Linked DNA regions of Homo sapiens: region 1 is linked to region 2. The links come from fine-mapping of genetic effects on gene expression. Tissue or cell type: blood mononuclear cells. Region 2 holds a variant in brackets; the other region holds the start of a gene. All regions are shown on one strand. Distances are from middle to middle.

Region 1 (2,687 bases), 47 kb before region 2:
AGGGAGAGAAAGGTGACAGAGTCTCCTCCAAAATGGTCATCCAAATTGGAAAGTCACTTTTCAAGAGAGAACCGGAGTCCGGCTGATTGGATAGCTGACAGGATCATGAGAAAGGACATTAACATTTGTTGTGTGACACCCATGTACCAGGCAGTGGTTTCCAGGTGAAGAAACCAAGTCCCAGGGAAGGCAGGTAATTTCTCCTAGGTACACCTGTAGTCATTTATGATGGAAACCAATGATTAACTCCAAATTCCTTCTTTCTTTCTTTCTTTCTTTTTTTTTTTTTTTTTTGAGATGGAGTCTTGCTCTGTCACCCAGCCTGGAGTGCAGTGGCACGATCTCAGCTCACTGCAGCCTCCGCCTCCCAGGTTCCAGCGATTCTCGTGCCTCAGCCTCACGGGTAGCTGGGATTACAGGCACGCACCACCACGCCTGGCTAATATTTGTATTTTTAGTAGAGATGGGGTTTCACCATGTTGGCCAGGCTGGTCTCAAACTCCTGACCTCAGGTGATCCACCCGCCTCAGCCTCCCAAAGTGCTGGGATTACAGGTGTGAGCCACTGCACCCAGCCCAAATCCCTTTTATTTTGTTTTTATTTATATATATTTTTTGAGATGGAGTTTTGCTCTTGTCACCCAGGCTGGAGTAAAGTGGCACAATCTCAGCTCACTGCAACCTCCAACTCCCGGGTTCAAGCGATTCTCCTGCCTCAGCCTCCTGAGTAGCTGGGATTATAGGTGCCTGCCACTATGCCTGGCTAATTTTTTTGTATTTTTAGTAAAGACGGGGTTTTATCATGCTGGCCATGCTGGCCTCAAACTCCTGACCTCAGGCAATCCACCCGCCTCGGTCTCCCAAAGTGCTGGGATTACAGGCGTGAGCCACCGCACATGGCAAATCCCTTTTATTAATAAAACACTAAACTCTCCTGGAGCAAGAATGTGAGAATTTTATTATTTGAGCAACCTGGATTTTTACCCCAGGAGCAATGAAACAATCCATGAGACCTGGAAAAAGCTGAAGCTCTCTTTTTTTTTTTTTTTTTAACTTGTATACAGTACAGTTTCAAACAAAATTGGGGCAACTTTGTACTTCGTACCTTATTAAAACTGGGGCGAACACAGCGTGTTTGGTTTGATCTTGTCTTCATAGGATCTTCTGGCTGATTCCTTCTCTGGATGAGTCCTGAGAATTTCTAGAATCTCGGGAGAGTAAAGGAGGGTCTGGAGCCTTCTCTATGTACAAGGAAATCCCAGTTTTGTTAAAAACTTGCCAAAGGCTTGGTGATATAACTCCAAAGACAAATCCACAGATTCCTTTCAGGTACTTCTTTGGGATTCTGTGAAGAATTGTGGCTGTACACTAGGATGTTTAATAGGAAGGAAGCTCCTTCCTTTATGACATCACCAGACAGAGAGGTAGCTAAGGGGATTATTTGAGACACTCTTAGAACAACAGCCACTTTTGTGGGAGCCCAAGAAACAGCAGCTTTAAAACAGGGTAAATATTCAGGCATCATTAGGATCCTGAATACAAGCCAGCCAGTAAAATACGGGATCTACTCAGAAGGGCACAATCTATCAGATGGTCAAGACAAATAAACCTGGGGCCAAGGTAGCGGTTTCAGCACAGAGAGGGTCTGAGGTTACTACTAACACATCCCCTCAGCAGGGACATGGGTACGTTCTTGCCTCAAGCCATCGAAGTGCTGCAGTCTCCCTGAACCCTTCCCACCGAAGATCAGAAGCTGCACATCCCACCACTCCCCATTCAGCATCAGACTACCCTCGATCTGTCTCCCTCCAGTCAGGACCTGGACACTATGCAGTACCCACTCCTCGGGGACCCGAGACTGGACCAAGAACAGAATCATCCCGCCATTCCTCTCCCCATCTAAAGAGCCAGAAGACTCAGACACTGGCTTCCCATGCTTCAAGCAGACAATGGAAAGTTAGTCCACCCAGAGAGGAAGCAGCACGAAGAGGCAGTGAGAGCAAGTCAGGGCGCGAGGTCGGCCATCATGCTTCATCAATCCCAGATGCCAAATCTACTCATCAGTTGAGTTTTCAAGACCAGAAGAATAACTTACAATCACAAATCTTAGAAGATGACCCACCATCCAAGGTCCAGAACCCCCAAGGAGTCAGAGTTCCCCGTAGGATTTTGTCTTACCCAAAGGATGAAGCAGTACAAACTGAGCCCATCCAAAGAATTACGACTACTAGTGAGATCAGATCTCCAAGGAGTCCCTCTCTCCTAGAGCACGGAAGCAGCTGTGTCTCTGCAGACTATCAGACAGCCCAGAGAAGGGTCCCTGTAGAAGAATCAGAAACAGGTCCTTACGGTCCAATTCCTTCAAAACCCAAGGCCTTGTATAGGAATATGAACTTGGACTCATTGCTCAAACTCTCTGTCCTTAAAGATTCTGATGGTGTACACCGAGTTTCTGCACGGGTAGACCCTGAGTCTCTTCATAAGTATTCTGCCTATCCTGAAACCAAGCCCTCCGCAAAGGTCTTAGTATCATCACAGGTGGAGTCCAACGTGAGGACCCCAATCCGAGGAAACAGCGAGGTTGGCCGCAGGGTCACCATCTCCCCAGGGGTACAGTCAGTAGAGCCAACTCACCATGTGACAGTTCCATCAGTGTCTGAGGGCTCCCACAAGTCATCCATGTTTGTT
Region 2 (2,687 bases):
GAAGGCTTTAAACATTACAGTGAAGAGTTTATTTTGATTCAGTTGTCAATAGGAAGTCATTGTAGGAAGTTACTGTGGTCTGCTGACAGTGGGATCCTTGGAGAACTAATCAGTGAGTACAGGGTAGCTGGAGGCACAGAGACCAGCCAGCACTGCTGTAGTAGTTCAGATATGAGGGGAAGAGTCCCTGGCAAAGAGAAAGGATTAAATTCAGAAGCACTGTAGAGAACCATTGGCAGGCTACAGAATTGAAAGTTGGAGAGTAGAAGTGAAAAGTACTTTGGGTCCCAAGTATCTGAGCTTAAAAAGTAGGAGAATATTAGTACCACTAATAGACATTGAAAGGTCGAGAAGACCAGCCAGTTTGGGGAGAAAGCGGAGATACAGGGAAATTGGGATTGAAATATTAGTTGACAGCAAAGAAGGAGGTGTGTTGTAGGCAGCTCAAGATGGAGAGTAGATTTCGAGAAATAATTGGTATAAAGATTTTAAAGGAAATGGTCTCTGTAACAACTGACCTGACTTACCTTTGATTCTACCTTTCCCTAGATCAAAAATGTCCTTCTTCTTCTCCTTCTTCTCCCCCTCCTCCCCCTCCTCCCCCCTCCTCCCCCCTCCTCCCCCGCTTCTCCTTCTCCTTCTCCTCCTCCTTCTTCTTCTTCTTCCATTAAAGTCATAAACACATTCTTCTATACCCATCTCAAATCCTACCCTCTCTCTGTAGCCTTCCTTGACCTCCTAGCTGGATGAGCTCTCTCTCCTTGTTGTAAACTCAGGTATTATTATCTCTGTCAACATTGCTGACTAACCTTTGGTACACATAGAATGAGTTGTGGAGGATGGCAGAATGTTGTTATTTGAATTTGGATGAAGAGCACATGGAAGTTAATTATATTCTTCTTTTTGTTGTTGTTTGAGACAGAGTCTTGCTCTGTCACCCAGGCTGGAATATAGTGGTGCGATCTCGGCTCACTGCAACCTCTGCCTCTTGCCTCCCAGGTTCAAGCGATTCTCATGCCTCAGCCTCCCAAGTAGGAGCTGGGTTTACAGGCATGCACCACCATGCCCAGCTAGTTTTTGTATTTTTAGTAGAGATGGGATTTCACCATGTTGGCCAGGCTGGTCTTGGACTTGTGGCCTCGAGAGATCTGCCTGCCTTGACCTCCCAAAGTGTTGAGATTA[T/C]AGGCATGAGCCACTGTGCCCAGCATATTCTTTACTTCTTTTGTATGCTTGAAAGTTTCCATAATAAAAAATAAAATGAAAGAAGTCAGCTGTGGCACTTAAAAGAATACAGATCCCTAGGCCCCACTCTTGGCCATTCTTATTCAGTAGGTCTTGGGTGGACCCTGGTTGTCTGGATGTCTAAGAAGATCCACTAAGATGCCTGATGTGTATCACACATTCAATTGGCACCTAGCAGTGGAAACCTCATGTTGTATTTTGAGCTCATTCATTCATTTCTCAAGTCATTTGCCCCTGGTACTGTGCTAGGCGCTGGGGATTCAAATAAGACAGAGTCCTGCCTTCAGGACACTTCAGTAGAGGGAGTTAAACAAGTAAACAATAAAGTGCAATAATGTGTTATAGGAAGCACTGAGCAATGTGCTTTGATGTGGATTCTTTTGTTTAATCTTCATAATAGCTTTAAGAGCTAGGTACTTTACCTTTATTCCATAGATGAGGGATCTGAGGCGTAGAGAAGTTAAAGTCACACAGCAAAGATGTTGTTAAATTGGGATTTGAACCCTGCCTATGGGACTCCAGGAACTATAATGATAACCACTGTTATTGCCTTCCTGGAATTTCGTACCATTAAAAAAATCAAAATTCGTCACAAAAGGTATATCAAGTATGTATAAAACATTTGTTTTAAGTTTCAAAAACCGATTACTTAAAATAAGCTGCGTTGTAACTGCCTTTGGGGAATTTTTCCGCATAGGCTGAACTGACTGAGCCATCTAAAAATAGGAGGCCAGTGAAGCCTCTACTGTTTCCCTGGTGAATTTCACTCAAGTTTTCATTGCTCTAAGGACTTTGAACTGCATTAATAATCAGGATGGTCACTCTTGAAAATGTCCCTTAACCTATCTGGTATATATGAATGCCTCTAGAACTCTGAGTGCTATATACTAGGGGAAGTTTCATGGGGCCTTGGGAAGCAGAGGAGCACACTGCTGCTAAGTGGTTATCAAGAGCAGTGTTGAGGGAGTTGTGTTGTCTTAATAAAGTTTGTGGTTATTATGTTTGTGGTTGGTTGCCTGTATTTTGAATTCTCATAGCATCTCTACAAGGTATGATTTATTATCATCATTGTATAAAGGGAGAAACCAAGTATCTGAGAGGTTAATTTACTTATTTGTAGTCATGTAGCTAATTAGCGTCAGAGCCAATATTGTCTAGCTCCAAAACCCATCTTCTTTCTGTTTTACTGTGATGGAGGCAGTGGGATATTGGGTTTGAGTCTCAGGTATAGTCCTAGCTGGAACAGTAGATTCAGAAGGCATTGGCATAGAAGGCAGCTGAAACCACTGTAGTGGTTGAGATTGCCCAGGGAGACTGGTAGGTTGAGTGCTGACAAAAGCTGAGGATAGATTTTTGGGTTCCGGAGGACACGGTCCATGTCTCATGCTTTTTTTACAGAGTAAACTTTCAGTGAACATTGGTTATTTGTGATCTTAAGGGTCCTT

Evidence for each region. PIP is the estimated chance that this variant, and not a neighbour inherited with it, causes the effect.
Region 1: it holds the start of SEPTIN4, and the variant in region 2 is fine-mapped to the expression of SEPTIN4 in blood mononuclear cells (TOPMed, PIP 0.97).

Annotation. Positions count from the first base shown.
Region 1 is chr17:58,543,089-58,545,775 of GRCh38, reverse strand. SEPTIN4 (septin 4) reads left to right here and starts at 1,448. Exons shown (of 14, transcript NM_001368771.2): 1 at 1,448-2,687. The coding sequence starts at 1,590. SEPTIN4-AS1 (SEPTIN4 antisense RNA 1) reads right to left here. Exons shown (of 5, transcript NR_110810.1): 3 at 2,178-2,319; 4 at 1,105-1,240.
Region 2 is chr17:58,496,466-58,499,152 of GRCh38, reverse strand. The region is part of intron 14 of MTMR4 (myotubularin related protein 4); the gene reads left to right. Among named protein-coding and RNA genes, the nearest start is that of HSF5, 9.4 kb to the right of the region's middle. The variant T/C (reference allele first, on the strand shown) is at 1,183.